Regions from separate parts of the Homo sapiens genome. Here regions 2, 3, 4, 5 and 6 are each reported to be linked to region 1. The links are microRNA targets in miRTarBase. Many come from high-throughput screens and were not tested one by one. Region 1 holds a microRNA gene; each other region holds the end of a gene's coding sequence.

Region 1 (5,369 bases):
CACAGGCGCCCGCCACCACACCCGGCTAATTTTTTGTATTTTTAGTAGAGACGGGGTTTCACCACGTTAGCCAGGATGGTCTCGATCTCCTGACCTCATGATCCACCCACCTCGGCCTCCCAAAGTGCTGGGATTACAGGCATGAGCCACCGCGCCGGGCCGATCTTATTTTTTTGTGTCCACAGCATGGATTTCCCTGGTGATCCACCTGCCCCTGCCCTGGGAGCAGGTGCTCCCACCCCACCAGGCTCTCTCCCTCCTGGCTGAGGTGAGGTCTCTGGGCTCATGGAGCCAGGCCTTAGAGCCAACCTGGGCTGCTGGGTAGAGAGGATCTGCTTCAGCCAGCTCTTTCTGCAGTGATGACGAGGACGAGGAGGAGGAGGAGGAAGGAGAAGAGGAAGAAGAGGAAGCAGAAGAAGAGGAGGAGGAAGATGAGGAAGAGGAGGAAGAAGAGGAGGAGGAGGAGGAAGAAGAGCCTCAGCAGCGAGGGCAGGGAGAGAAGTCAGCCACGCCCTCACGGAAGATTCTGGACCCTAACACTGGGGTGAGTTTCTATCATCTGCCACAATCAGAGCCCTGGTCCTGAGAACGTGAAATCCCGAGGCACTTTCACAATGGGGTAGGGGGTGTCTCCTTAAGCACAGTAGCCACAAACATTTTTTTTTGATTGCATGATATTGAGTAAAAAAAGGAAAATGGTCCCAGTGTAATGATAGTTACCTATATTTCTTTTTTTTTTTTTTGAGATGGAGTCTCACTCTTGTCACCCAGGCTGGAGTGCAGTGGTGTGATCTCGGCTCACTGCAACCTCTGCCTCCCGGGTTCAAGTGATTCTTATGCCTCAGCCTCCCAAACAGCTGGGATTACAGATGCTTGCCACCACGCCTGGCTAATTTTTGTATCTTTAGTAGAGCCGGGGTTTCGCCATATTGGCCAGGCTGGTCTTGAACTTCTGACCTCAGGTGATCCACCCTCCTCGACCTCCCAAAGTGCTGGGATTACAGGCATTGAGCCACCGGGCCCAGCCATAGTTACCTATATTTCTATTTACCCCAATATAAATGTCTATTTACAGGTAGCAGTGCTGCTGCATTATGTATATTATAAGATATGCATAAGGGTTTCTGAAAGAATAAACAAATAAGCATAAATAGAAATTCTGATTTTTTTTTTCCCCACCCACCAGAGGATTGTCTTGGTGACCCTTAGGAACCACTCCCCCATTCCTGGGATGGTGGCTGGGCCATGACCTGGCTTGGGCACTTGGTGTCCCTTGTCTGGCCCGGGGCTGCATCAGGGCTGCCACACCTCCAGTTCATTCATTTGCATTCCCTGTCAGGTTCCTAAGTAAAGCTCCTGGAGAACTTGGCTCTGGACAAGGACTCCCCATGCTTACGCTGAATTGGGCTGCTTCTCTGGTTTATGGAATCAATTAAACAAATGGCTAGGTTCGCCTCAATTCAGTTTTTCCTCTGGGCACCTCTGGTGCTAGCAGGGCTTACCCAGGCTGGACTGTAGTTCTACGGGGACCCACTTTAGCCCCCATGTGCCTCCGTAGTCATTTCTGGGGCACTGCATGTCATGACGAGGATCCACTTGGCCGTAGCAGGTTTTTTGAGTCCCAGGGAGGTAGCTTCCCCCTCACCCCAAAGGCTCCTGGACCAAGAGCCATCCAGGGCCAGCATCTCTGGGTGATATTGATAGATGGGAAATGCAGCTGAGTGGGAGGAAGAATTCTAGACTTTGAGCCTAGATGGGCTGGAGTGAAGGGTGGATGTGCTGGGTGTGGGGATGGGCACAGCTGTGTCGGGGAGTCTGGGGTCCGGAATTCTCCAGAGCCTCTGTGCCCCTACTTCCCAGGAGCCAGCTCCCGTGCTGTCCTCCCCACCTCCTGCAGACGTCTCCACCTTCCTGGCTTTTCCCTCTCCAGAGAAGCTGCTGCGCCTAGGGCCCAAGAGCTCCGTGCTGATAGCCCAGCAGGTAATAACCACCCCTCGACCCCCACGCTGTACGTGCTGTGGCTTCTGGAGCTGTTAGAGAAAAGGGACGAACAGCTCAGAGACCTGGGGGTGCGACGCTGTCAGCTGGGGGCAGGGAGGCTTGGCCTGCCACTGTTACAACACGCGCAAATGTCCAGGGTATTTATAAGCCTCCAGGGGTTGCAAATGTTCCCTCCCCACTCAGCCTACAGAAAGTACAGCCCGCCAGTTCCCATGCTGACTGGGGTTAGGGAATTTCCTTAAGAGCCTTGCATGTGCCCACCCCCTCCTTGGCTTCTCTCTGCGTGTTCCGTCAGCCCAGCTGCTTCGAGAACAACTCTGTTGCCCAGGGCTCCTTTGGAAGTGACGTGCCTATTGCAGGATGGGTGCCCTCACTCCAGCCTCACTTGTTGGTTGGCTCATTCATTCATTCATAGATGATCTTCGGGGCATCCATTTTCTGCCAGGCACTGCATTTGGGCATGATTTTATTTAACCCTCTTGGCAACATGAAATGTAGACTCTGCTGCCCTTACTTTATTTTATTATTTATTTATTTATTTATTTTTTTGAGATGGAGTCTCACTCTGTCGCCCAGGCTGGAGTGCAGTGGCACGATCTCGGCTCACTGCAGACTCTGCCTCCTGGGTTCAAGCAATTCTCCTGCCTCAGCCTCCCGCGCCCAGCTAATTTTTGTATTTTTTAGTAGAGACGAGGTTTCACCACGTTGGCCAGGCTGGTCTCAAACTCCTGACCTCATGATCCACCCACCTCGGCCTCCCAAAGTGCTAGGGTTACAGGCATGAGCCACCGTGCCCGGCCAGCCCTTATTTTGTAGATAAGAAAGCGGAGGCTCGGAGGTTACAGAGAAATAAAATGGGCCCACTCTCAGAGTTGGCTTAACATTTCGGCCAATTGCTTTGTTAGGTTTTGCCTGTATTCTTTGTTTCTTTTAACATGATAAATCAGATGTTGTAAGCCTTTCTGTGGCCTATCACTTTGGTGTAGCACCATTCATCACTTTCTTGTGCCCATAAAACTCTTCTCAGGATTTTTATTGCAATGTGTGGATGTAGCACTTAAAAGCCAGGCACTGTTTCTGACGTTTTTTCCACTTTTCCCTGTTGTGAGGTTGAGGTAAACGTTTCTGCATGTGAGTATTGTCTACATGCTAGATTATTTCTTCAAGTTCAATTACAAGATGGGGACCACTGGATCCCTGAAATGATTTTTTTTTTTTTTTTTCTGAGACAATGTTTTGCTTTGTGACTCCGGCTGGAGTGCAGTGGTGCAATCATGGCTCAGTGCAACCTCGACCTCCTGGGCTCAAGCAGTCCTCCTGCCTCAGCCTCCCAAGTAGCTGAGACTATAGGCACACACCACCAACCTTGGCTAATTTTTTTCCTTTTTGTTGACATGGGGTCTTGCTATGTTGCCTAGGCTGGTCTCAGACTTTTCGCCTCAAGCCATCCTCCCACCTCAGCCTCCCAAAGTGCTGGGGTTACAGGCATGAGCCGCCACACCCGGCTGGGATGATTTTTCATCCTTGTTCATTCACTCATTCATTCCCTCTCTATGCTGCATATGTGCTTGCTGCAGGCCAAATCCAAGCCAGACTCTGAAGGGACAGCATGGGGTAAGGCAGGACCTGTTCTTGCCCGCCAGGGGCCTTTGTACTGCCCAGGCCTCTCCTAGCTAGCGTCAGAGCCCAGGTACCTCTCCACCACGTGCCACAGGCCAACCATTGTCTCTTTTGTCCTCAGACTGACACGTCTGACCCCGAGAAGGTGGTCTCTGCCTTCCTAAAGGTGTCATCTGTGTTCAAGGACGAAGCTACTGTGAGGATGGCAGTGCAGGATGCAGTAGGTAATGTGGGCTGGGTGAGACCTGGGTGCCCTCTGTCCCTTGATGCTCGTGGGCCCCAGGTATCCTTCGTGGTTGCCGTAACTCGTCAGCCCCAGCGCTCTCATGGGAACTGCTCTTTGGCCACCTGAGTTTTTCCTCCGTCAGGGTCCTGCCGTGGAGCCAGCTGGCTGCTCTTCTCCCTGTTTTTCACCACTGAGAAACTGAGGCCTTTCCCAAATCCACACAGCCATGTACAGTTAGAACCCATAGCCCGCTCTAGGAAGTCCAGATAGTCACATCTGCAAGCCCAATGGACGCAGGTCTATCGGGAGGAGGGATGGTGAGAGCCAAGCCCTTGTCCACACCTTGGAGCTTCTGTGCTCACGTCCACTCTACCTGGAGGTTCCTTGCACAGAGGACACCTTTCCCCATAACATTATGGGGGCTTCCTTGGAGCACCAGCCCATATCCCTCCAGCCCTATCACAACCCTCTCCCCACCCTGTCTGTTTCCTCCATTCCAGCACCTGTCACCTTCCACCCTGTTTCCATGTGCTTGACTGAGCCTCCACATCTAACGAAACCTGAGCCAGTTCCGGTTAGGCAGAGGGGAGGAAGGGCCCTGAGGCGAGGGGGACGGTTCCTGGAAAAGATAGAAAGGGGTGGAAGGACATGTGGTGCCTCTTCCCGGCGTGGCGTCGAAGCGGGGAGGGCGGCTCAGTGGGAAATGAGGCTCGGAAGGAGGTGGGGGCCAGACACAAGCCTGCTCCCTGAGGGCCCGCCTGTGGGCATTTTTGGGAACAAGTTGCCCTAGTTCTGTTTCCCAGGAAGCCTAGCACAGTCCCTGCACATCCCCTCACCCTGCCAAAATAACCTGAATCCTCCCCAGTGGTAGCCTGCCTCAGGAAATCTCCATTCCCACGGTGTGAGGTGGGCACAGTGGGTGTCATCCCCATGCCCATTTTATACCTGAGGCCAGGATGGGCAAGGGCCAGAGTGTCACAGCTGGCAGATGGACTGAGCCCATCCCCTGATGCCAACTGCCACTCCCTCTGGTTCCTGTGTCTCTGCCGTCCCTCTCGTGTTCGCCTCTTCGTCAGGGCGAGGAGGCAGGCGAGCCTGTGTCTGCGCGGTGTTGGGGGAACCCTGGGTGCCTTGGCCCAGCCCTCTGCCATAGCCAGCAGCCTGCCCCTGCTGCTTCTGCCCTACAGATGCCCTGATGCAGAAGGCTTTCAACTCCTCGTCCTTCAACTCCAACACCTTCCTCACCAGGCTGCTCGTGCACATGGGTCTGCTCAAGGTGAGGCCGGAAGGAACAGCAGGCCCGGGAGGGAGGTGGGTGGGGTCTGCACAGAAGCTGCCCCAGCCATGCCCGCCAACCTCCCTCACCTCGAGTCCTGAGCCGGCTCGCCCACGGGGCCCCGAGGCCTGGGTCTGCCCCAGCAGCCTTGGTCTTCACGATGAGATTCCGGCTAGACTCAGTTGTGGGCACTATCAGCAGAGTCTGGATGGTGGAGTCCAGGGGCCCCCCCAGGTGACTTTGAAG
Region 2 (5,369 bases), not on the chromosome of region 1:
TGTGGAATAGCCTAAGTACAGTGAAAATGTGCGCATGAGCGACTGCATTAGCTCTGCTCAGGTCATCTTATGAGATGCTTTCAGGCACTCATTCTGCCAGGCTACTTTCAGTTTGGGTGCAAAAGAAGAAATAAATATTTCAATTGAAATGTGCAGGGGGACCAGGTGCAGTAGCTCATGCCTGTAATCTGAGCACTTTGGGAGGCTGAGACAGGAGGATCACTTGAGCCCAGAAATTTGAGATTAGCCTGGGCAACATAGTATCTATAAAAAATAAAAAATAAATTAAATGCCCTGGTATTCTTTGGACAAGAGTTTAAAGTTCTGTTCATCTCTCTCATATTCCTCTTTCTCAGGGTGCTAGGAAAAAAATATTAAAAAGAACAAACAAAATGCAATCATTTTGTCCCATTTTGTCCCAAATTTGGTCCCATTGGTGATCCAGTCTAAACAGAGGTTTTCTCAGCCACTTTTGTCAACTATTATTTAGAAAGATACAGCAATAACCAGAAGAGTTTTTGGCTTGAAACTGCCACACAGAGTGTCCTGGAAACAAAACTAGGCATTATACAATTCCTGGGGATGTCATTCATATCTTTTCTATGTGGATGACAACCCCTTGGTACACAGTATGAATGGTGTCCGCTGGAGTTGTGAATGCTGCTGTCCTGCCTGGAAGCAGTGTAACTTGTCTGTTAATCTCAAAATACGTATAAGCTGGTAAGATAAGCAGATGGCACTGACAGTCCCAAGAATAGTCAAGAACTATTCTGTTCTTGCAGAAAGCTGCTTTTAAACATAGTCCAGAGAACTTGATTTAATCTTATCAATGGCTACCAAAAAGGTTCAGATAATCTAGTGAGGCTGCAATATTTCTGATTTCTAGGTATCTGTTTTAAAGACAAATCTAAGACCTTGAAATTTTAGGTTCCTACAGTGCAGTAGAGTGTGATTTGCATAAAGAATTCTGTAACATCATTAATCAGGGGAATTTAGGATTCCTCACTTTAATTGCTCTCATGCACACCTGTTCCTGCTGAAAGTAAATAGAGAGCAACTGCAGCTGCATGGTGGCTTTACTGATTTAAGTACTATCATTAAGAGCATCTTTCAAGCTGGGAGTCTTACAGCTTCAAGGGTGTTTCCAATATATAATTCCCATCAGAGTCAATGATCATTAGAACATATTTTTTAAAACAAAATCCAAAGTTTTTTTTTTAAGTTTTAAAATTATTAACAAAATCAGCCATTTAAGCAAGTATATGTTCAAGGACAGGAGAGGATATCCTGAAAATTTCATCATATTAACTACTATTATATGTGGGACCCAGCAAATTCGAATTAGTTTGGCTTCATTTGATGTAAAATAAGAAGGAATGAACTCATATTTTCTTCTTCCTGTTTTCTTTCTCATTTTTTTTCTTGAGATGGAGTCTTTCTCTGTCACCCAGGCTGGAATGTAGTGGCACAATCTTGGCTCACTGCAACCTCTGCCTCCCGGGTTTAAGGGATTCTCCTTCGTCAGCCTCCCGAGAAGCTGGGACTAACAGGCATGCGCCCCACGCCTGGCTAATTTTTGTATTTTTAGTAGGGACGGGGTTTCACCATGTTGGCCAGGCTGGTCTCAAACTCCTGACCCCAAGTGATCTGCCTACCTTGGCCTCCCAAAGTGCTGGGATTACAGGCATGAGCCACCTTGCCAGGCTGCTCTTGCCATTTTCTATTGGTCCTTAACCTTTACTGGGTCATGATACTTTTTTTTTTTTTTTTTTTTTTTTGAGACAGAGTCTCACTCTGTTGCCCAGGCTGGAGTACAGTGGCATGATCTCGGCTCACTGCAACCTCTGCCTCCCAGGTTCAAGTGATTCTCCTGCCTCAGCCTCCTAAGTAGCTGGGACTACAGGTGCTTCTACCACACCCGGCTAATTTTGTGTATTTTTAGTAGAGGTGGGGCTTCACCGTTTTAGCCAGGATGGTCTCGATCTCCTGACCTCATGATCCACCTGCCTTGGCCTCCCAAAGTGCTGGGATTACAGGCGTGAGTCACTGCGCCTGGTCGGGTCATGATACTTTTTAGAATATGATGTGAGATATGGTACCTTTTCCAAGAAATGTACTCAGATACATGTACACAAACTTTATCATAACATTTCAGGGGTTATTGACTCATAAAACCTATTCATAGACCCTCTAGTTTCAAAATCTCAATCTAGGCCAAGCGTGGTGGCTCACGCCTGTAATCCCAGCACTTTGGGAGGCCGAGGCAGGTGGATCATGACGTCAGGAGATTGAGATCATCCTGGCTAACATGGTGAAACCCTGTCTCTACTGAAACATACAAAAAATTAGGCAGGCGTGGTGGCGGGCACCTGTAGTCCCAGCTACTCAGGAGGCTGAGGCAGGAGAATGGTGTGAACCTGGGAGGCAGAGCTTTCAGCGTGCTGAGATAGCGCCACTGCACTCCAGCCTGGGCGACAGAGCAAGACTCCAGTCAGAAAAAAACAAAAACAAAAACAAAAAAACAAAAAAAACCCCCTTAATCTAGAGGCCACTGTAGGGTGAAAATAAGTTGTAAGAACTCAAAATTAATTCCAGGTTTGAAGAAAAAGTTAGTGGGTTTTTTTTAACACTGATTTGAAAGCAAGTCACTTTGGAGACAAAATTACTACTTTCAGGAATCATTTTTATTGATGTCTTTAATTTCACAAACCAAATTATATAAAATTAAGTAGTACACATTTCAAACATAATAATTGTGCTCTGTACAATTCAAGGCACACTTGGATTTTTTGTTGGTTTTTTGTTTGCTTTTTAACAACGGAAAACTTATACTCCATTCAAGATTTTTCCATCAGAACTTTAATCATTTTATTTGGGTTCACAGGTGAAAATATTGTGAAAGTTCATTTACACCACAATGAAGGATAACATCTTCAGCCCCATTTATTTACTAACAACTTTATTGAGATATAATTCACATACCATATAATTCACCCACTTAAAATATACAACTCAATGGTTTTTAATATATTGTTATGTGACCATTACCACAATAAGTTTAGACCATTTTCATGAACCATAAAGAAATCCTGTACCCATTAGATGAATCCTGTACTCCCCATTCATCACCCCCAATTCTAGCCTTAGGCAACCACTAATGTACGGAAAGTATTTTTTGTAGAGACAGGGTTTTGCTATGTTGCCCAGGCTGGTCTCAAATTTCTGGCCTCAAACAATCCTCCTGCCTCAGCCTCCCAAAGTGCTGGGATTACAGGTGTGAGCCACTGTGCCTGGCCCTTTATTTCTTTTTATGGCTGAATAATATAGTCCATTGTATGGATATACCAGATTTGGTTTATCTATTCATTAGTTCATAGACATTTGGGTTGTATTCAGCTTTTGGCCATTATGAATAATTCTGCTATAAATATTTGTGTACAAGTTTTTGTATTGACCAGCCCCTTAATTTTTAACTACACAAGGCAAAAAGTAAAAAGAGAAGAACTCTTACAACAAAATCATACAAAATATGTTTTGCAACAATTTTAGATTTTTCAAGATTCAACCATTTCCATATGTAACATCACAGAGGCTTGTCATGACAGGAAAACTGGTGTCATTACTCTATCACAGAATTGGGAAATCCTAGAAGGTTAGATGTTCTCTAAGACCCTTCTTACACTAAGTTAACGACTTACTACTTTCTATTATTTCTCCATAAACAGAAGAGGAAAGACCAGAAGAGGAAAGGCTTGCCACACTAACCTAAGTTCCCTGTGCTGGTTTGAAGTACTCAGTTCCCTTACCAATTTCCAACTGTCTTTTTCCTACAACTTTAATGTTTGTTGAGTGTATGTATGATTCATAAGATTTCTGATCAATACTATGTGTGTGACATTGAAAGGAGTCAAAATGAATGTATGACTTAGCTGCATTTATCATTTATTAATTGATGACACATTTATCCAATGATAAAAGCATTTGAGAATCTCAACTTATGCCTGAGCCTCTTTCATTAGCTATTATGGTATTATATTCACACAAGTTCATGCATTGAATTTATCTGATAAGGACAGATTCAGAGGCATAGGAAGCACATTCCTAAAGATTTGACCATTAGAGTCGTTACACAGAAGATTCTAATGATTATTTATTTTGCTTTGTATTTCAGAACAATCTTACTTTGGATTTTTGATTTAATTTCACTGAAATTCAGTCAGCATTACCTGATGCTAGCATGTGAGGCATAATCTGGAAGACTGAATCACAATTTACTGCTAGGGGAGCCTGCCAAGCTTTGCCATTCTTTCAGGGGAGGGTTTCCCTGAGAAGCCAGTTTTTTTAGATAGTCACTTGGCTCCAGTTGGGGAATATCAGGGTTCTGCCTGTAATATTTCTGCAATTTCTCTAGAACTGTGGGCAACCCAACTGTGGAAGCATAGAACATGGGCCCGCCCTTGTGCCTTGGCCATCCATATCCATGTAAATAGACAACATCAATGTGCTCTGGGCTAGCAGCTATCCCTTCTCCCAAGATACGGAATGCTTCATTGATAAGTGAATATAAGCAGCGTTCAAGGATCTCATCCTGGCTAATGGTACGTGGTTCAATGTGATGGGTTTTTCTATACCGTGATAGGAATTTGGAAAGCCAGGGATCAGGTTTGTGAATCCTACCCAATGGCTTGTCATATTGATACCAACCCTTACCTGTCTTCTGGCCAAATCGTCCTAATTCACAGAGCACATCAGGAATTGGGCAGTACCTCCTATTACCCCTTTTTCGGGCAGGAGTTCCTGGAAGCAATGTAGGTCCAGTAAGACCTTGCCCCTTTCTAGATTTCCAGCCCACATCCAACCCAGCAAGATCAGACACTCTAAAAGGTCCCATTTTAAAACCAAACTCTTCCAGCACCTGATCTACCTCCTCTGGTTTGCTGCCTTCTTCTAACAAGAAATATGCCTGATTGTAGTAAGGATTCAACATTCGATTCCCCACAAATCCAAAACAGTTGCCTACAACGACTCCAATCTTTTTAATCTTTTTTGATAAGTTCATAACAGTGGCAATGGTAGTGGGGGAAGAGTATTGGCTGGGAATAACCTCTAACAACTTCATGACATGAGCTGGCGAAAAGAAGTGGGTGCCAATGACCAAGTGAGGACGATCAGTGGAAGAAGCAATCTCATCAACATCCAGGGCTGAAGTATTAGTGCACAAAAATGCTTCTGGTTTGCACACAGCTGAGAGTTCAGCAAAGACCTGCTTCTTCAGGCTCATTTCCTCAAATACTGCTTCAATGACTAAATCTACACCACCAAGCTCCTTCACAGATGAAGTTAACCTGGGTTTTGGTCCTGACCAAGGG
Region 3 (5,369 bases), not on the chromosome of region 1:
GTGCTGGGATTACAGGCGTGAGCCACTGTGCCCAGCTGCAAAAAGATGTTAAACAGAGGAAATAAGTTGATAAATATAGAGGATTCAACAACTGAATAACAGAAATTCTAGAAAGAGAAGAAAGAGACTAAGGAAGGGGGGAAGTTACCACAGAAACAAAACCCTTAAGACTGGAGGAATTTCCAGCACAAAAAGACACGAAAAATTAACACAAAGAATGAAAAAGACGTAAGTCAATGATCATCACAGGGAAATCAGAAAACTCTAGATAAGAGAAAATCCTAAAATCTTCAACAGAAAAGAGTACACACTGATGGAGTGACCGTCACAACAGTGTCTCATCAGCAATGCTGAAAGCTCTGAGAGTGAAGCAATGCTTTAAAAATTCCGAGGGAAACACTGCTGCAACCTAGAGTTCTAGACCTAGGCAAACTATGAATGCAGCAAGCAGGAATAGACATCTGCTGATACCAGAGATCACAAAATTTTACCTCCCAAGTACCTTTCACAGGAAGCACTTGGAAGATGGGCTCATCAAAATGAGCTAAGAAAGACCCAGGATATGGAAAATTCAGCATAGAAGCAGAGGCAAGCCCTGAAGGACAGTGCAGCATACCCAGCCAGAAACCAGTTCAAACAGAAGAAAAGGAAAAGGGCCCCAAAAGGGCTATCTCCAGAGAGAAAAGAAAATAGTTCTCACACAACAGAATACTTAAGTATGGTGAACCAATGGAAAATCCTGGGAGAAATCTGTTAATTTCAGAAAGTATAAAAAGTTGCACAGGAAAGAAACTGTAATCATAACACACTACTTGCTAGCTAACCAATTAATAAAAGTCGTAAGTTAAACAATGGACATAATTTTAGCAAAAAATTTTATATATCACTATTGTAGAAGGATGGAAAAGAGGACAGAAAAGCAACTCATGGGGTCTGCTTCCATAATACCAAGTTAACTGAGATGGAGTGAAGCCAATAAATAAAGATTTAGTAGAACATATCTATCCTTTTCAAAGATGGAGGTAAATACCAGCAACAACTGCTAAAAGAGTTTGAGGAGATAAACTAGGGTGGGATAGAATGGAACAGGAAAATGCTGGTTTTCATTCTGAACTGTGTAGCAGTATTTGAAATTTTAAACTATGTGTGTGACTAAATAGACAGTAATAAAAAGTACGTATTTTTTCTAAATGAGGCAGGGTAAACATAGGGAACTGAGGTAAAAGGAAACAGTTTAAAATAATTATTTTTGTTTTCTTCAAACATGGTATTTTAGGCTCTACACTAGATCTTAAAATTAAGGACAAATTAGTCAGAATAATACATATCCCAGGAAAACTTCTGACTTAGCATTGTAAACCAATTCTAAGAATGGCTGGTAATTCATAACAAAGCCAAATAATGCTTCACAAGTAAGTATAGGATAGAATGAACACAATTTCGTTAAAAGGCAAGTACATATATTTTATGTGTTCAAGTACATATATTTATGTATATTTATGTATGTATCTGTGTATGTATCCACATGCAGAAAGATAATATACCCTGATACAAAATATACATGTTAAGTCTAAGAAGTCCTGTTACTCAAAGAAATATTTTCAAATATTATTAGATAATTCACTTGTCGATCATCCTTTTTCAGCATCTAAAGAAATTTCAGACACAAAATATGCAACTGCATTTAGAATAAACAGATGGAAAAGCTATTGTAGAAAAAAATATAGGTTTTTAGAAAAGTTGGAAAGATTACAGGCAAAAAATAAGAACATATATTAAATTACATTTGCAAGTTTCAAATATTTGTAACTCAACACAAAAACCTCTAAAAGTATGTTGGGTGCAATGGCTCACATCTGTAATCCCAGCACTTTAGAAGGCTGAGGCAGGAGGATCACTTGAGCCCAATGAGACCAGCCTAAGCAACATAGGAAGATTCTGTCTCTACAAAAACTAAAAAATTAGCCAGGCATGGTGGCATGTGCCTGTGGTTCCAGTTACTAGGGAGGCTGAGGTGGGAGGACTGCTTGAGCCCAGAAGGTTGAGACTGCAATGAATGGTGATCATGCCACTGCATTACTGTTTGAGCAGAAGAGCAAGACACTGTCTTCAAAAAACAAAAACAAAACAAAGCCTCTAAAAGTAGTTTGAACTATTAACTTTAATAATGTAAATATCATGGCCTGGCTCGGTGGCTCACATCTGTAATCCCAGCACTTTGGGAGGCCAAGGGGCCTGGAAAACATAGGAAGATCCCATCTTTACAAAAATAAAATTAAAACATTAGTAGGGCATGGTGGCATGAACTTATAGTCCCAGCTACTCAGGAGACTGAAAGAGGAGGATCACTTGAGCCCAGGAATTTAAGGATACAGTGAGCTATGACTGCACCACAGCACAGTCAGAGACAGACCCTGGGCAACAGAGCGAGACCCTGAATCTAAAAATAATAATAATGATAATGGTAATAATAATAAAAATATCAATTTAAAGTTTTATTCATGATCGTCTTATTAAAATAAATTTAATTGCAAAAACAACCTGTCTTAGAATACAGTATCAGATGTTTTAAGTACATGTGATCAACAGTACAAATAATTATAGCAGTCAAACCTTAGTATCACACATACTTAATATATTAGATATACACAATAATAAAATCACTCCCTACCTTGAAAACTTTACAGAAGCATTTTTAATTTTACAACACAAAGCTCAAACGAACCTACAATAAGTCTAGTAGTCTGTTTACGTGCCAAGGGATAAGGCTGAACAATAAATTAACCCTTTAAAAATGTCTATGAACAAGTACAATTTTCTTTTTGAGTTCTGCAGAGCAATGACCACTAAGAAATATTTTTAAAGGCTGAACAGAATCCAGCGGCAATGAAGTTAATTAAATAAGAAGACTAAGAGAAAAATAAACAGTTCAATATTAACAATACAGTATATTTGCCAGCACAATCAAATCAGTATAAACACCTTTAAAACATGAATACTGAACTTAGTAAAATGTTATATTGTATCTAATTATGTCAGATATCTGATGAGAGTGCTTTTTATTATAGAAATAGTTTCTTCTCTCTTACACAAGACTTTAAAGCAAATCCAAACAGACAATTTAACTGTTTTGGAAAATGTATTCACTGCAGAAATGCCCACAATAAGCCATGCTATCTGATGGTATGGTAATGTGAAATGGCATGGTAACGTGAAATAAAAAAAATTTAACTAGATAATTTTTACTTCAAACCTGAAGCAAAAGTACAGAATGCTGAGTTCATTACTTTATGTATCTATTGTAACTAGGAATTACTACATTAAAAATATTCATTCTTACAATGTTTGTTTTTAGTTGCCTAGATATGTAATGGGCCAGGTGCTATATGAACACTGAAGAATAAAACAAAAAAGGTTCTCTGCAAAGAAAAAAAAGTTGGCCTAGGGTACTCAGTATATCCTTACAAATTTAATTATATATGGTTTTTGAAACTAAAGAGAAATGTTTTTCCAAACAGTTAACTTTCTAAGTGGGTGTCTCTGCACCTATATACTAAGTCAAAATTTCAGGGGACCATAGATATTTAGAAACACAAAATTGCTAATTGACTATTTCAGTTGATGTTATATTTATCAACTGTACTTCCTGGGTATGTTTCCTAAAGTACATTCTTACATGCAAAATTTTTTAAATCAGTGAAACAAACATTATGTCAATTCTTGCAAACCTAGACATAGTAAAATAAGAAACAAGTTCCAAATTTTTGACCTGGACAAAGAGAATTTAAACCAAGCATATCATACATCCAAAACACATATCCATTGATGAGTCACCAAATCTGGGGAAAAGCAACTGGGATTGACTATGAGGCTGCCTTAATTAATCTTCGTCGTCTCGTTGCAAAGGTATAACCTGAATTTCTTTAGCTATCCTTTCTGCTAATATTCTATTATTTGCAGCAATTACTCTTCGTGACATCAAATCAAATGGTCCACCTAAAAGCAAACAAGTATGAAAAATAATTTTATCTGGTACAAAAATAATTCATATAAAACAAGTATAGCAATATGTACTATGGTCACATAACATTTTAATACTTTCAGTTTTCTTAAACAAAAATCTACTGTTACATTTCTACAATGTATAAGCTTAGACAATATATAACTGTTTCTAAGCATAATTTTTGAGTAAATAATGAAGTCATACCAGTTAGAAAATGTCATATTTTCTCTATTTTTGTGCATTCTTATTACCTCTTTATTGTTTAAGAATCTATGGACAGAAAATGTGAATCCAATGCATTTTCATACCACTGTCCTTCCCATTTCCTTATTTCTTTGTTGCCTTTCTCCCAGATCACTGGTGAATTCTTTCAGCACAGATTCACCCTTCGGTTTAAAATTTTCACCATCAGTTGAAAGCAATTATTTAACTTCTCTAGTCTCAACACAGAAAGTGATGGTGGAGGAAGTCCATCATCAACTATCACCATTGTCACCATTCAAAGAGCTCTGGGTATAAGCCTCAGACTCGGTGACTGTCTAGGCCAAGGGTGTCGAATATTTTGGCTTCCCTGGGCCACACTGGAAGAATAAGAATTGTCTTGGGCCACACATAAAATACACTAGCACTAATGACGGCTGATGAGCTAAAAAAAATTTTTTTAATCGCAAAAAACTCATTATGTTTTAAGAAAGTTTACAAAGTTGTGTTGGGCCACATTCAAAGCCATCCTGAGCCACATGTGGCCCATGGACTGCAGGTTGGACAAACTTGGTCTAGGCTTTTTCTACAGCCTTTCAGGAGTACCTGAAACTCACACTAGAAAAGGATTAGCCATTTATCATTGTAAGTCTCACATTACCATTACCTCTTATCCTTACCTCTATCTCCTAAAGCTTATTTTGATTTTGCACACAATTATATAGCTTGTTTCTGCTTCAAAAACTGCAGTATAACATATATCAAAAAGTTTTTTAAATTCTACATATGGACAAAAGTCCAACAGATGTGTGGAGATCTGCTTCACTCTCCATAATTTTACCTGTAACATCCATTAGCACGCCACCAGCTTCAGTAACAATAATGCCAGCTCCTGCAACATCCCAGCAGTGAATTCCCATTTCATAATATGCATCTGCTCCGCCAGTTGCCACAAGGCACATATTAACAGCTGCTGTTCCAACACTCCGGATCCTAACAAATAGAATTTAGAAATAAAATTGGAAAAAATAATCCTTTCAAGTAAGATATTCCTCCTTAACTTCACTTTAAGTGTCGATTGAAGAAACTTGGAACGATCTAGAGGATAAAGATTTTAAGAGGTGATATCTAATTGTAAAATAAAAATATGTATAAATCTAATTAT
Region 4 (5,369 bases), not on the chromosome of region 1:
ATGATCTGCCCACCTCAGCCTCCCAAAATGCTGGGATTACAAGCATGAGCCACTGCACCCGGCCACCGTTACTTCTCTAATAAAGGAATTACTTTTTGTCAAGCTCAGTTTACTAAGCTAGATTTCAAAATAGATAATTCTGTTAAACATAGCTTTATGCTGTATTGTCCAAGATGATTATTTTGATGTTTGTTGCTTTTATTAGTTTAAATTTTTATCGGGTTACTGCAGTTTAGTTACCTAAATTGCTAATCTCTAGCCCTCTGAATATTATATGTTATATTATTTTAATGTAGTATATGAGCTTTCAAATCTACAAATTAACAAACAGGAACTGTTGCCTGTTATGTTCAAAAGCACTGGAGCAAAAATAAGCAATTCTCTTTTGTTAATAGAATCTCACAATTTAAGGAACATGAACAAATAACTAACATGAGCAGGCTGTGATGAGCGGTATAGTAAAGTATAGGGCATAATGAACATGAACATGCTGGATGTGTTCCTTCCTCTTGTTCCTTTGCTTTTTCTTAAATTTAGTGTCCTGTCAGATGTCAGATTAATAGTATTAGATGCTTAATGGATTTAGTATACATGAAATAGTTCGTTTTGTAAAAAGTAATTTGAAAATAGATATTTTCTATGATATGAGGATTAAATGGAAAAACAAAACAATTAAAATTGATAGCGCCTTTTAAATCACATAGTTGGCAGAACTGAGGCAGAGATTGGACCATGCTGAGGCCGATAGGCAAGAACTCCAAGATGAACTCAGACAGGAACGGGAAGCAAGACAGAAGTTAGAGATGATGATAAAAGAGCTAAAGCTGCAAATTCTGAAATCATCAAAGACTGCTAAAGAATAGAAACTGTTAAAGAGATTCATCTGTGTATTACTGACAAGGTTTTTTTTGTTTGTTGCTTGCTTTGGTAATTGAATTCTGAAGAATTTATCTGCATGACGATAACTAGGCATTCTATCCATTTGTAGATCAGAGAAAGTGAAGAGATTATATATTAGTACTTAAATTTTTACATTTTCCAAATGAATGAAAATGTATGTTTCTTTGTACTTTTTTAAAAAAATCAGCTTAGTAACAATACTATATGGTTTCAACTAGTAGGTAATCTGCTTATATTTCTAATGCAAACTTAACAATTGTGTACTTTTTAAAAGCTGCAATATGTGTTGGAAAATAGCTGTGGTCAATTTTGTTATCCATATTTCAGACTCAATTTTAGATACAATGGTGGCTTTATATTTTAAGTATATAGAGCTACTCAAGGAGTTGAATCTCCCCTTTTCTCATTAACACAATTTTTCTAAGTTGATATGGTGTACTCATTAACATACACCAAATTTACTTTTACTTTGTTCAGATTGTGGAATGAATTTCCACCAGTTCTCTTCTTTTTAATGTGTACCCTAGGAGGAATTTTACTGAGGTTATAGCATACCCCATGAGCACAGTGGGGAAGAAGAATGTGTTGTTATGTGCTGCTGCTAAACAGAAGCAGCAGTTGTAATTTGTTTTTCAGTTTAAATGTGGTTATAGTTAGATTTTTTTTTAAGCAGCAACTTTTCAAAAATAAAATGTGATAATTTCTGAACTTTTGTTTGTGTTGTTAATAGTGGTGTGAAAATATTAACGTTCTTGAGAAAAACTGATACCACTGTTGTGTATCAGTTTCTATACAATCCATAATCCTCCTGTACAGTTTTTACATGTAGTTATGAGTCTTACTAAAATTTATATAATGGACTTGTTTTCCTTTAAGTTGTAAAATGTTAAACACCTTGAAGGTTATTTTGGACTTCTGTATGTTTAAATGTTGTCTTACCAAAATTTGCACGAATGGACCATTTTCATTTACTACTTAATATCAAAATCAGGAATTTACAGTCAACTGATAGTACATGATAGGTGCATATAGGACAGTTTAGTTACCTGCTACTAAAAGATTTTTAGATAAGTTTTAGAAGATAAAGGAATTCCATAGTTTCAGGAGGGACAACATCTTCTGCACTTTTTTTTTGCACAGAAAAGTCTGTCATTCTCTAATGGCAAATTTCATATTTGTTAATTCTTGGCTCAAAATATATTAGGTAAAATTCTTAGATCTGTTTTTAAAGGGAGTTTCCTGAAACTATCATTAATTGACATTATTACCCCATGGATTTTATGGGATAATAAATGTTTTTCATGTTCTCTTATAAGATACTATGTATGAAATTACTTCAGAGAGCTATATTTATTTTAAAATAAATTAGCTAGGGTTAAGGTTATATTCTATTTCCAGCATAGAAGGTAGATAATCTAATGGTGTAGAAAGAATCACTAGGTTGTCATTTAACCAGTTATTTTCATATTTTGCTTAATAGTACATATCCAAAAAGAATTTTGTACTTCCCCAAATGTAATTTATTTACTAAATTGAGTATAACCTAAATGTGTGTTTTCTATTTTCCATTTAAATTTTGCTATATTAAGACTAATTTAATTCGTTGAGTCTTGGAATCTTCTCAAGGAGGAACAAATATTAAAATGACATGTAGAAACAAATTTTTTTTTTTTTTTTTTTTTTTTTTTTTTTGAGACAGAGTCTCGCTGTCTCCCAGGCTGGAGTTCAGTGGTGCAATCTCGGCTCACTGCAAGCTCTGCCTCCTGGGTTCAAGCCATTCTCCTGCCTCAGCCTCCCGAGTAGCTGGGACTACAGGCACCCACCACCACTCCCGGCTAATTTTTAGAAACAAATATTTAAAATGACATATTCTCCCAATACAATCTATTTAGATCTGGAGAAGGAAAAATCAGATATTTATGATATAGTTTTATTTTAATTTTGAATTATTTGTGTCACAGCTCAGCTTTTTGGAAGACAAACTCAAACACCTATAATTTCATTTATATTTCTAATTCACTTGGAACCTTTCTGCTTTATGTTACCTAGAAAATGATAATTTGTTTAACCCAAAACTTCTAAAATAAATTGCTTAATCCTTGAAATATGTTATTGGAAAATTTTAAGCAGTGCTTAAACACCATTAAATTATTATGAACTTGTAATTCAGAATTGAGTAAAGAAATATTTTTTCTAGTCCTTCATATATTGAAAACTTGCCACATGACATTGTATCGTCTTCATTTTCCAGAAGATGCGTTGGTGTGCCATAGGTTTCTAACTTCCTTGAAAATAGTTTTTTAAGTCAATTGTAAATATACGTATTATTGTTAAAAGTAACTTTAAACTGCAACACATAGCTTCAAAACAATATAGAGATTTTGTAATACCTTATAAGTGGAGTTGGCTAAAATACCTTATCCATATAAAACTTATTCTATTCTTTGCATGCTTATTTTGTGTGTTGGTTGCTAGCTTAAAGTTTGATTTGTTGTTACTCTTTGTGTGCCAAATTCACTAGGCAAGCGGATTTTTCCTCAGACTTCAAAAAATAATTCTTTTAAGAAAAAATGTAAAAATGTTTATTCTAAAAAGCTGCATTAAAGGGACAACCTATAAAAAGTTTTGCTAGCTCATCTTTAGAAGGAAGAAAGAATATTAGCTTGGGTGATGTTTAATTTGGGTGGCGATAGTTTCTGTAGGCTAAACTTTATGAGAAAAGTGTACCTACTCTATAAAGGTAATAAATGTAAAACCTCTTGCTGTTATTGAGGAAGCTCTTCAACTACCCTAAATTTCACAAATGTAACTTATAACACTATGAAAAGATTTGACCAACAATTTACGTTTGCTGTGTGCTTTAGTTTTTGTTTAAGCATATTCTTTTGCTTGAATTTCTGTGTTCATGAGAGTTAGGGTGTTTTATGCTTCTTGAACTAATTTTATAACATATTTAATATATTACCAGTTAAGATATAAAATCATTTGTACATAGCGAATTGTAAAGCAGCTATTAAAGTAGGTGAAATAAAGTATATATTTGCCGGTTATCCATATCTTTTAGAAGTCCTGACAGAACAACCAGTTTATTTGCACATAGGTAGCTTCTGTTTGAAGGAAGGTAAAGTTATAAGGAAACTCAAATACTATAAGATGTGTCAAGGTATTTCTCCAGAATTAATTGCAAAGCTAGTGCTGAAGGATTTTAATCAGCTTCTAAAATTTTCTTCTCAATAAGGCATATGTTTTGATTACTTAGGGAAGATTCCTCATTTTTATTTGCCCTTTATGCATTTAATCCACATGATAGGACATTAAAAATTAATATAAAGAAAAATCGTGCTCATACTGTACATCTGTTTCTGTGCTTGGAACTACTTGTTAATAGTTTTTATCGAAGCTGTCAGCAATAAGGGACATAAAACTGCTGTATTATACATTGTGGAATTGAATAAACAGCCTAATTTTTTTTTTCTAGTATAGGGTACTTAAGCATTTCCACTTTTGGAAGAAAAGTGTATTAGTATTTTATATTGCATTTCATTTAAAAGGACAGTTTTTTTTTTTTTTTTGTAAATCCATTCATTGAAATGGTTTCTAAACTGTATAATGTAATTTGGAGCCTATTTAGTAATAGAATTAAATGTCCTATGTAGTGCTACAATTTTTGAATTAGAAAGTGATCAAATGTAAGAAAAAAATTTAAAAATTCAGCCCAGAAAACAAAATAGTGTATTAAATTAGTTTAATGTAAAAGGAATTTATAAGATTTTTTTCCTCAATATAGATACCTCACTTGAAAAGAAAGCACAGCATACTTAAAGTAGTTCTAGTAAACATGTCCTAGAAAACAGTTGCTAAATGTAGGACATCTTTTGAGGAATTAGTTTATGAGAAATAAAATTTTACTTGTTTTTACTATCCTGTTAGAAGTATTTGTTTATCCTGATAATTTTAAGCCAACATAGTAGTCTTAAATTACTTTTGAATTTCTAATCTGTGAAGGCAGTAAATGAAATATCTGTTCTGCAACTGTTGAAACAAATAATTGGCTACATTGACCATAATTAAAGTTAAAATTTTGCCAATGATGTACAGTTTTATGGTTAAAGTTGCTGTGGTTGGTTGCATTACATGACACAGAAAACTGTCCTCTACCTCACGTGAAATAAATATTTTATATGGTTTTACTAAAAATAAGACTCATGTATCTGGTCACCTAGTTTACAAATTTTGAATTATATTTATTGAAACATGACATACTGTGCTCTGAGCTTATACCTCAATTGTATTTTGTGCTGTTTTCCATTTTCATGCCTTGTAAATAACTTGTATAGATTGTGGATCAAATACTAAATAAAAACTTTTAATGCCAATTAAATTTGATTCAAGTTATTTCAGTATCGTGTGTGAGCTTAACTTTCTCATTCCCTAAGATTGACATTTTCTTCTTTGTTCCTTTAAAGTCT
Region 5 (5,369 bases), not on the chromosome of region 1:
CTGGCTGAAGGGGGAAGAGAAACCCCAAAGCCCCACCCAGCCTTTTCCTGGCCTCCCCTCCACCCAGAGCCTTCCTGGGAGGTCTCCAGGAACCCAGTTTGAAAGCCAGTTGCACGCGAGACAATGGGCGTGATGACAGCATCAGACCCACAAAAGGGTTGTAAGAACTAAAGATAAGGGCATTACCCACTACTGATGCCATCGTTTTACGGCTGAGGAAACTGAGGCTTGGCGCAGATCAACCACTTGCCCACATGGCTCCTACTCTGCTAAGCTGCTGGGGATGTCCTGTGTCATCTGAGGGCCTTCCCTGCCCAGTCCTCCCAGGAAGCAGCCTTTGATTCAAATCCCATTCTGTTGAAGGCCGAGCGCAGTGGCTCACGCCTGTAATCCTAGCGCTTTGGGAGGCCAAGGCAGGAGGACCCCTTGAGATCAGGAGTTCGAGACCAGCCAGACCAACATGGGAAAATGCCATCTCTACTAAAAATACAAAAATTAGCTGGGTGTGATGGTGCATACCTGTAATCTCCACTACTCAAGAATCACTTGAACCCAGGAGGTGGAGGTTGCAATGAGCCGAGATTGCACCACTGCACTCCAGCCTGGGCGACAGAGCAAGACTCTCTCAAAAAACAATCCCATCCAGCCAGGTGCGGTGGCTCACGCCTCTAATCCCAGCACTTTGGGAGGCTGACGCAGGCGGATCACGAGGTCAAGAGATTGAGACCATCCTGGCCAACATGGTGAAACCCCGTCTCTATTAAAAATACAAAAATTAGCCAGGCATGGTGGCACGTGCCTGTAATCCCAGCTACTTGGGAGGCCGAGGCAGGAGAATCACTTGAACCAGGAAGTCAGAGGTTGCAGTGAGCCGAGATCGCACCACTCCAGGCACTCCAGCCTGGTGACAGAGCAAGACTGTCTCAAAAAAAAAAAAAAAAAAAAAATCCTGTTGGAAAGTGAGGCAAGGCACAGGGTAGAGCTGGCCCCAGAGCCTCACTCTCCACCTCTCTGGCCTACCTTGCCCTGCCCTTGGGACAGCTGGAACCTCAGCAGTCACAGGGCTGCCTTCTGTGTCTCCCTCCAGAGCTGCCCTCCTCGGAGCACCTGAGTGTGGCGGATGCCACCTGGCTGGCCCTGAACGTGGTGTCCGGCGGTGGCAGCTTCTCCAGCTCCCAGCCTATTGGCATGACCAAGATCGCCAAGTCAGTCATCGCCCCACTGGCTGACCAGAACATATCCGTGTTCATGCTGTCCACGTATCAGACAGACTTCATCCTGGTGAGCTGACCATCACAGACACGCCTTGCACACTTGGGCCCGCCTCTGACACACTCACTCCCATCTCCCACCCCTTGCAGCCTTGCCCTTCCACGCTATTCCAGGGTGGGGGCAGAGTCTCAGGGTGAGAGGTTGGTGCCCCAGGGCCACCAGGCACACACAGCCTCAACTTCTTGCCCCTAGGTGCTCAAGCGGGACCTGCCCTTTGTCACCCACACGTTGTCATCAGAGTTCACCATCCTGTGGTCAGTGGCTAGACTGTAGCAGCCGAGAACCTCGGCATCACCAGTGGCTTCGTGAAGCCCAAGCTGGGTGAGCTGGGGGCGGGGGTTTGTGCGGGGAAACCTCACGAAGTTACCAGGCCAAGCCGTAGACCAGCCTTGCTCTCAGCACGGGCTTCTGCCCACTGAGCATGAATGGAGTGCCAGGCAGAACGGGATGCAAAGGGCAAGGTGTGGTGGCTCATGCTTGTAAACCCAGCACTTTGGGAGGCCGAGGCAGGCAATTCACCTGAGGTCAGGAGTTTGAGACAAGCCTGACCAACATGGAGAAACCTGGTCTCTACTAAAAATACAAAATTAGCTGGGTGTGGTGGTGCATATTTGTAATTCCAGCTACTGAGGAGGCTGAGGCAGGAGAATCACTTGAACCCAGGAGGCGGAGGTTGCGGTGAGCCGAGATTGTGCCATTGCACTCCAGTCTGGGCAACAAGAACAAAACTCCATCTCAAAAAAAAAAAAATGTGATGGAAAGGTCCTGGGCAGGCCCTGCTGCCATGTCTAGCAAGGGTGGTGGACGTGCATGCATACAGCAATGGCCAGAGGCCACTCCTGCTGCAATCCCAGGTGTCAGGGTGGGTTTCCCTGGGCAGGGACTGTGGTGCTGAAGCCTGGAACACAGGTAGGAACGGGGCCAGGTGGTGCCAGTTGGGAAGGGCATCCCAGGCAGCCAGCACAGCATGTGCAAAGGCCCAGGGGCCTGAGAGTGAGATGGAGAATCAGGACGGTGGTAATTGGTGGTAGAGGCTGGAGAAGCAGCAGTGAATGAGTCTCTCAGGGCCTGCGGCTGAGCCCTCCCCAGCCCTCTTCCCAGGCCCTGCACTCACCAGAGCTGCTGCTTTCAGTCCCAGCCTCAGTGCCTGACATCTTTGTGCTCTTACAGTCCAGATGCCGGTCATCCACCCACTGTCCAGCCCGAGCAACAGGTTCTGTGTCACCAGCCTGGACCCCGACACGCTGCCTGCTGTTGCCACACTCCTCATGGATGTCATGTCCTACTTCAATGGGTAGGGCTGCCTTGGGCATGAGGGGTCGCCGGCTGGACCAGGGGGAGGCACGGCTCTGCCTAGGAGTCTTAGTCTGACGGGGGAGGCTTTGCCAGGAGCTCATCTGAGGGAAGAGACACAGACCTTCCCTGGAGCTAGTCTGAGCGGGGAGACATGGACCCACCCCGGAACTAATCTGAGTGGGAAGGCAAGGACCCGTTCCAGAGCTAGTCTGAGCGGGGAGACAAAGACCCGCCCCAGAACTAGTCTGAGGTGGGAGACATGGACCTGCCCTGGAGCTAGTCTGAGGTGGGAGACACAGACCCGCCCCGGAGCTAGTCTGATGGGGGAGACACGGACCCGCCCCAGAGCTAGTTTAAATGGGGAGACACAGACCTGCCCTGGAGCTAGTCTGAGGTGGGAGACATGGACCTGCCCCAGAGATAGTCTGAAGGGGGAGACACGGACCAGCCCCAAAGCTGGTCTGAGGTGGGAGACAGGGACCCACCCTGGAACTAGTTTGGGGTGGGAGACACGGACCCGCCCTGGAACTAGGCTGAGGGGGAGACACAGCTCTACCAAGCAGAAAGGTTGGCTCTGGATGGAACATTTTGTGGGGAGTCCCCCATGTCTGTGAAGGCCTCTGCCTTCCCCGAGAGGAGGCGGGGGAAGTGATTGAGGGAAGATTTCAGGTGAGTCCCCCTACTCTCCACACCCTGCCTAACGCCAGCTGTGGAAGGAGGGCATCAGGACCCCAGCCCAGGCCACAGCAGGGAGCCCAGCAGAGGGAAGCCAGGTCAAACCACAGGGACTTCTCTCAGGCCAAAGCCCCAGGAACCCTTGCTGTTGTCCTAGAACATGGTGGGATTGGAGCAGAGACCATCCCACTGGGATCCCCCAGCCCTATCTAGGCAGCCACAGGTGTCCCTCAGGAAGCTCCCCCAACACCCCTGCCACTCTGAGAAGCCAGGACAGATCTCTAAGATTGGGACACTGCCCTCTCCCTGGGCCAACCCCAGCCCTGCAATGAGGCCCCAACCCACTCTGGTTCTCACCTGGCTTCTGCCTCCCAGGGGTGGAGACTGCCTCCCCACTCTCTTCACCCCCAAAGAAGAAGCACAGCCGAGGCCGACATCAGAGAAACTGTGTTGCTGACTTAGTTGCAGCAGGAAATGACTGAAATGGGGTAACTGTCACTCACACACTCACACCTGTGCCCACACACGCACACACAGAGACCACATCCGCAGCAGGTGGGCCTGGCCAGACACCTATGGGACACTTATTGGAGGCCCAAGAATTAAAGTAAGGGGGTGACACCCAGGAGGCCTGGGAGGGGGAAAGCCCAGTGGCCTCATGGTCTCTCTCATCGAACTCCTAAGGGTCCTTCCATGGCCCTGGGCCCCCGAGGGTCAGGGAAAAGAGTGAGGCCGGGACCAGTGTGAGGAGGCCTCTCCCCTGCCTGAGCGTAGAGTCCATTCTCAACAGAGACAAAGCTGCCACGTGCAGGGATGGGTGTGGAGGCCCAGGCGGCAGGGCCCTGGGGCCGGTGTGCAGCGTGGGTGGGGAGTGACGCCCACCAGGACGGCCCCCCATGGGGGTGAGCTGTGTCCAAAGTAGCTGGGCGGCAGCTGGTGTTGATAGTGGCATAAGGGACGTGAAGAGCAGCCTGGGAGGCCTGGCTTGGTGCCTGCGCGGGGGAAGGAGGGTCAAGTGAGTCTGCACAGCTTGGGCCCAGCCCTGGCCCCCCTGCCCCTGCCCCTGTCACCTCATCCCCAAAGCAGGTCCCCTCCTCACCCATGCTCGTGCTCTCGGTGCCTGGGGGCTGGTGCGGGACGGCTGGAGCCTAGGGGCAGGGCTGGGAGAGAGCAAGGATGGTCAGAGCTCTGCAGGGCATGTGGCCATCCCAGTGTCAGGGGGACGTGGACAGGGACCAGGTCTCACCGGTGCTTATGTCGGCGCAGCAGATGAAGGAGGTAGACACAGCCAAAGAGGAGGACTCCTGAGACCCCCAAGATCCCGGCCAGGTCTGCCCGCAGAATGGGGGCAGGAGTCGGCGGGGCAGAGAGCCCTGGGCACGGAGACAAGAATCAGATGGGTGGCCAGTTCCCGAGCCCCTCCCTGCCCTCCTGGACCCCTCGCCCCGGCCCCACCTGGGTCTGAGCTGGGCGGGAGGCTCCCACAGGCCTCCCAGGAGCCCTCAGGGAAGGACGCAAACTTGCAGCAGAAGGTGGTGTTGGCGCAGGGGCTGCTGGCCCCAGAGCCTTCCAGGATGAGAGAGATGCTGCTCTGGGTTTCCCAGCGGGCCTGGCGAGCAGGGGCCCATTGCCGGATGCCACGTTCTGGGTGCAACACAGCCAGCGTGGTCCCCCCAGCACCGTTGGGGCCCCCCCAGCTCACAGTCACCAGGGAGATGGAGCCAGACCCCAGGAACCCACAACGGATGGTGAAGGACGAGAGCTCGGTGGCCTCCATCCGAACTTGAACCCACACCTCCGGGGTCCCTGTGGAACAGCAGCAAGGTCGGTGGGCTGTTGTCCTACATCACCCTCCCTGCAGCCCCTGCCCCTCTCTGGTGCCGGCACTCACCCGCAGTGACACACAAGGTCAGCAGCACCCAGGGCAGGACCAGGGTCCGGTGCCCCATGGCCCCCTCCAGTCCAGGTTCTGGGGGCTGCAGGGCCGGCACCTGTGCCTCTGTTCTCATCGCAGGAAGTCTTCATGTTGTCAGCAGCCAAACAGCCACTTCCTTCTCTCCTCTCACACCTTCCCCAGAGGTGGTGAGCACAAAGTGGCTGATTCCCTTCTTAAAGTGACAGTGAGG
Region 6 (5,369 bases), not on the chromosome of region 1:
TAGGATTGGAGTAGGTCATGAGAATGGGGCTGTCACTCTCACTAACGCCCTTAAAAGACTTGGAAGAGGCACCAGTGCTCTTGCTCTCTGAAATTTGAGGACACAGGAAAAAGGGGGCCATCTGCAAACCAGGAAGAGAGCCCTCACCAGCACTCAACCATTCTGGCATCTTGATGTTGAATTATGAAGACTACAGAACTGTGAGAAATAAATGTCTGTTGTTTAAGCCATCCTCTATGGTATTTTGTTATAATAGCTCAAACTGACTAAAACAGTTGCTAAAGATATATCCCTCCCAATCCCCTCACCCAAAGAACCAGGCCCAGTTACTTTTAGCAAGCCTTCAAGGAACAATTCCCATGTTATACAAACTCTCCATAGCAATAAGATAAACAAAATTTTTTCCAAATTCTTTTGCAAAGCTAGCAAAGCATTACCAAATTGAATCTACTTCTGTACTTAATAAAAATTCACTATGAACAAATAGATTTTACTTGAAAAGTACAAGGAAATTGCAAATATTTGCAAACTTGTCAAGAAAATGAATTACAAAAAGAAAAAACCATAACTCATAAAATTACAATGATGGAGTTTTTAAACTTGATATAATATAGCAACCAATCCTAATAAAAACTTTTTAAGTATAGGCCAGGCATGGTGGCTCACACCTGTATTCCCAGCACTTAGAGAAGCTGAGGCAGGATGATCGCTTGAGGCCAGGACCGCAAGACCAGCCTGAGCAAAATAGTGAAACCCCATGTTTACAAAAAATAAAAATAAAAACTTAGTCGGGCATGGTGGCACATGCCTGTATTCCTAACTATAGGGGAGGTTGAGGCAGGAGCATCTCTTGAGCCCAGGAGTTCAAGGCTGAGGTGACCTATGGTCACATCACTACACTCCAGCCTGAGCAACAGAGGGAGACCTTGTCAAAAAAAAAAACAGAAAACAAAACTGTAAGTATAATAATAATTGGGAAACTGTGCACTGTGTGCCCAGTATTGTTACAATAATGTATTCTTCACAACCCTATGAGGTAGCTCCATTTTATAGATGGAGGAATAAGATACAAGGAAGGTAAGTGATTTGCCCAGGATCACACACCTAACAAAGTGGTGGACTCAGGATTTGAACCTAGGGCACTGGGAACAAAATCTGTGCTCTTAACCACTAAACTACACTGCTTCTTCTAGAAATAAGATTAGAAGGAAACTTCCTAAATCTAACAGAACATCAGAATCCAACAATGAACACGATATGAAACTGCAGAATACTAAAAACATTCCCCCAAGCGTTAAGAGAAAGACATCTACTGTTCCATGTTTTCTGAAGTTCTTGCTAATGCACAACATAAGTGACATCAAAAGACAAATAAATCATTATTTATTCTAAACCTAGAAAAGCTAGGAAATGAATCTAACAAATTATTAAACCTAAAAATAATTTATCAACATAATTGGATCCAGATAAAATTTGTTTAAATCAATAATTAAAGTTTATACTAGCAGTGACCAATAGAAATTGAAGTATGGCTTTCAAATGCAGCCAGTTTTCCTCCATCCAAGAGCCTGAGGCTTTTTCAGGATTCACTTGTACTGAGCACCCACACCAGACTGGTGGCAGTGAGTTAATATAGTTAGGAAATGGTGCACATTCCCACACTCTGGAGGCTTAGTATGGTAGGGGATGAGCAGGCAAGAACCAGAAGGTAAAACTGCAGCTTCCAACAGGCAGGATGGTTCTTCTGCAGACATGACTGGCAATGTCCAACTCAGGGCGGGGAACCAGAAATGTCCAACTCATGTGCTCATATAGTGTGGGGCTCTTCCCTGAAATCTGGGGGCTCCCAAAATAAGACAGTTAAAGAGGAAAAAGTCCTATCTGCATATCTTTTAAAAGAAAATGGAAAAAAATACAAAAAAACAAGCTGAAAACATTTAAAATACATATTCACAAATGGTAAAATTCCAGCCGTGTCATGAGCTCCGGTTTGTTGTTTTGTTGTTGTTATTGAGACAGAGTCTCGCTCTGTTGCCCAGGCTGCAGTACAGTGGTGTGATCTTGGCTCACTGCAATCTCTGCCCTCCAGGTTCAAGTGATTCTCTTGCCTCAGACTCCTGAATAGCTGGGATTACAGGCGTGCACCACCACACCCAGCTAATTTTTGTATTTTTAGTAGAAACGGGGTTTTACAATGTTGGCCAGGCTGGTCTCAAACTCCTGGACTCAGGTGATCTGACCGCCTCAGCCTCCCAAAGTGCTGGGATTACAGGCATGAGCCACTGTGCCCAGACAAGTTTAGAAATTTCAAAAGGCCCTGAAAAACTTTAGGCCCCCAGTAATCCTTTCTAACTTTGTCTGAGACATCTCCCCAACAATCACATTTAATTCTAATTTTCTTGATCCTCAACTCTCTTTCCTTTCTCCTGCATTGTCTGAAACATACACCACAGTGCACAAAATCACCCCTCCAGGTTACATGACTGACATTGCCCCTCTAGCCTCCTCCTCCACCTTTGTCATACTGCGGATCCTGTCAGCCTGTTAAGAAATCTGGGGGATGGAGGCCAGGCGTGGTGGCTCATGCCTGTAATCCCAGCACTTTGGGAGGCCGAGGCAGGCAGATCACGAGGTCAGGAGATCGAGACCATCCTGGCTAACACGGTGAAACCCCATCTCTACTAAAAATACAAAAAAAATTAGCCGGGCCTGGTGGCGGGCGCCTGTACTCCCAGCTACTCGGGAGGCTGAGGCAGGAGAATGGCATGAACCTGGGAGGCAGAGCTTGCAGTGAGCTGAGATCGTACCACTGCACTCCAGCCTGGGCGACAGAGCAAGACTCCGTCTCAAAAAAAAAAAAAAAAAGTCTGGGGATGGAAAGAGAACAGGGTGAACATTAGAGTAAAAGGTCCACCGGCACTGGGCCATTATTGCAAGGGTGGAAGGAAAGGTGGTTCAAGCTCATGGACTGACATATGACTGCAGAAGGAAAGGTGGTCTGGAAGATAATTAAGGCACAGTTCTCATCTTGAAATTAAGACAGCAGTTGTAGTGAGAAAGGACTAGCTGATAAGGAAAACAGATTAGTTTGATACTACTATTTTACCAAAAACCTCATCACTCTGAATTCCAATCATCCAGGAATGCTGCTAGCTGAAATTTTCAATCATCTATATTACAGCCATGAAAGTCAAGTCTTCTTGCAGTAAATTTTGACTGTAAGGTTTTTTTTGTTTGTTGTTTTTGAGATGTAGTCTCACTCTGTCACCCAGGCTGGGGTGCAGTGGCACAATCTCAGCTCATTACAACCTCTGCCCAGGTGCAAGCAATTCTCCTGCCTCAGCCTCCCAAGTAGCTGGGATTACAGGTGCACACCACCATACTCGGCTAATTTTTGTATTTTAGTAGAGATGGGGTTTCACCATGTTGGCCAGGCTGGTCTCGAACTCCTGACATCAAGTGATCTGCCCACCTCGGCCTCCCAAAGTGCTGGGATTACAGGCGTGAGCCACTGAGCCTGGCCGACTATAACTTTTATTTAGGAAGCAGGATGCAGTCAAATAGTTCAGAAATGGAGTAAGTGTGCAGCTCAAAGCATGTTATCAGTAGGATATGACTGCCCAACCCAATACCTAGATAAACAGACACTCATTCACACACAAATCCATTAGCTCTTCAAGGCTGAAGTACCAGTAGTAAGACTTCCAGGGCTACAAGTAGAAGATATCAGTGAGCCTTTATATGTGATATATTACGATGCCACTTCCTTCTTTAGAAGCTTCTAGTCCAGTGTAATGGGAGGGAGACGGGAGCCTGTGCCCACGTTTATGATGGCTCAATTTGAATTTTAAAACTTAAGAACTAGCATATTCAAACTATTATGCATATAAAGAAATAGATACCATACCTGATCTCAGAAGCTTACAAGCTGGTATGAAAGTATACACATTTGAGGCTGGGTGCAGTGGCTCACACCTGTAATCCCAGCACTTTGGGAGGCTGAGGCGGGCGGATCACCTGAGATTGGGAGTTCAAGACCAGCCTGACCAACATAGAGAAACCCCATCTCTACTAAAAATACAAAAAAAAAAATTAGCCAGGCATGGTGGCACATGCCTGTAATCCCAGCTACTCGGGAGGCTGAGGCAGGAGAATCGCTTGAACCCGAGAAGCAGAGGTTGTGGTGAGCCAAGATTGCACCATTGCACTCTAGCCTGGGCAACAAGAGGGAGACTGAGACTCTGTCTCAAAAAAAAAAAAAAAAAAAAAGAAAGTATACACATACACAACTATATATGTGTATACTTTGTACATATGTGATACACATATCACCTTGTAAGTTAAGAACAATTTACAAAAACATTTAACAGTTACACATCGTAGCACCAGCTAATTTAAAGCATTAAGGCCAAATCAATAGAGGTATAAAAGAAACGAAAAACTATTTGAAGAAGAAAGTCTTTCAGAAATGGCATAAATCTTGAACATTGTGAAGGAAGTGATTAGCAAACAGGAAGAAAAAGTTTTCTAGCTAGAAAACACAAAAATGATGAGAGGATGTAGCTTACAGTACAAATTTTTAAAGTAGCTGTGGAAGGAGATAGCCAAGGAGCAGGGAAGAATAATCTTGCAGAATGACTTAAAAAGTGACTTCACGTAAATGGTTCAGTGGAGGAACTGCAATAGAATAAAGGTAATATAACTGCTGTTCTTGAGAAATGCAGAATCTGATTATGGAATGCATACTAACAAGATAGAGTTTTAAATAGTTTTTTAAGAGAAAGAAGGGAACCTACAAGTTAATGACAGATGTAATCCCCAATTTCCTACTAAGTAAGGATCAGACTAAGTTGCACCTACTCTCCCACCTTAGTGACCCAAGGAAAAGCAAGTAGGTATGGTCTCCACTGTGATTAGTGGTCTCCAAGGAGACCATGATGAACATCCTTCTTATAAAGACAGCTTAACTCAAAGGTCTTTGCTGTCTGTCTCAGAAAACCATGCCTTAAGAAGATGACCGAGCCAGACCTGAGGGCTTCTCTCCAGCATGAGTTCGCTGGTGGTGATTAAAAGTGGAACGCTGACTAAAGGCTTTCCCACACTCAATACATTCATAAGGTTTTTCTCTCCAGTGTGGACTCTCTGGTGCACAGTAAGCTGTGAGCTGTCACTAAAGGCTTTCCCACAACTATTGCATTTATAGGGTTTTTCCCCAGTATGGGTTCTCTGATGTACCATAAGACTAGAATTATAACTGAAGACCTTCCCACACTCATTACATTCATAGGGTTTCTCACCAGTGTGAATTCTCTGGTGTATAATGAGGTATGAGTTTTGATTGAAGGATTTTCCACACTCATTGCATTTAT

The links. Region 1 holds the annotated microRNA hsa-miR-6889-3p (UCUGUGCCCCUACUUCCCAG, at 1,841-1,860, shown strand). A microRNA usually pairs through its seed, bases 2 to 8, with sites in the 3' UTR of a target mRNA and lowers its output. Matches are read on the target gene's strand: a 7mer-m8 pairs with bases 2 to 8, a 7mer-A1 pairs with bases 2 to 7 and ends in A, and an 8mer does both.
Region 2: the mRNA of EHHADH is a reported target of hsa-miR-6889-3p. Seed matches in the 3' UTR shown: 7mer-m8 at 3,285-3,291.
Region 3: miRTarBase lists IMPA1 as a target of hsa-miR-6889-3p. The part of its 3' UTR that is shown has no 7-base or 8-base seed match.
Region 4: miRTarBase lists SKIL as a target of hsa-miR-6889-3p. Seed matches in the 3' UTR shown: 7mer-A1 at 2,035-2,041.
Region 5: the mRNA of PVRIG is a reported target of hsa-miR-6889-3p. Seed matches in the 3' UTR shown: 7mer-m8 at 3,757-3,763.
Region 6: miRTarBase lists ZNF852 as a target of hsa-miR-6889-3p. Seed matches in the 3' UTR shown: 7mer-m8 at 3,814-3,820, 7mer-m8 at 2,283-2,289 and 7mer-A1 at 1,155-1,161.

The regions. Positions count from the first base shown.
Region 1 is chr22:41,249,483-41,254,851 of GRCh38, reverse strand. MIR6889 (microRNA 6889) reads left to right here and starts at 1,802; the gene lies at 1,802-1,860. RANGAP1 (Ran GTPase activating protein 1) reads left to right here. Exons shown (of 16, transcript NM_002883.4): 11 at 358-544; 12 at 1,861-1,980; 13 at 3,743-3,845; 14 at 5,035-5,123.
Region 2 is chr3:185,187,962-185,193,330 of GRCh38, forward strand. It overlaps EHHADH (enoyl-CoA hydratase and 3-hydroxyacyl CoA dehydrogenase), which reads right to left. Exons shown (of 7, transcript NM_001966.4): 7 at 2,663-5,369. The coding sequence ends at 4,265. EHHADH-AS1 (EHHADH antisense RNA 1) reads left to right here. Exons shown (of 7, transcript NR_038990.1): 7 at 3,726-3,994. Among named protein-coding and RNA genes, the nearest start is that of EHHADH-AS1, 28 kb to the left of the region's middle.
Region 3 is chr8:81,655,471-81,660,839 of GRCh38, forward strand. IMPA1 (inositol monophosphatase 1) reads right to left here. Exons shown (of 9, transcript NM_005536.4): 8 at 5,046-5,197; 9 at 1,444-3,996. The coding sequence ends at 3,881. Among named protein-coding and RNA genes, the nearest start is that of IMPA1, 28 kb to the right of the region's middle.
Region 4 is chr3:170,391,555-170,396,923 of GRCh38, forward strand. It overlaps SKIL (SKI like proto-oncogene), which reads left to right. Exons shown (of 7, transcript NM_005414.5): 7 at 705-5,281. The coding sequence ends at 863. Among named protein-coding and RNA genes, the nearest start is that of CLDN11, 25 kb to the right of the region's middle.
Region 5 is chr7:100,219,794-100,225,162 of GRCh38, reverse strand. PVRIG (PVR related immunoglobulin domain containing) reads right to left here and starts at 5,214. Exons shown (of 5, transcript NM_001397246.1): 1 at 5,135-5,214; 2 at 4,699-5,049; 3 at 4,490-4,616; 4 at 4,343-4,403; 5 at 3,673-4,235. The coding sequence starts at 5,192. The coding sequence ends at 3,912. It also overlaps the pseudogene CASTOR3P. RefSeq lists enhancers at 3,455-3,554, 3,575-3,674, 5,065-5,134, 5,195-5,324 and a silencer at 4,095-4,144.
Region 6 is chr3:44,494,177-44,499,545 of GRCh38, forward strand. It overlaps ZNF852 (zinc finger protein 852), which reads right to left. Exons shown (of 4, transcript NM_001423469.1): 4 at 1-5,369. The coding sequence ends at 4,969. Among named protein-coding and RNA genes, the nearest start is that of ZNF852, 14 kb to the right of the region's middle.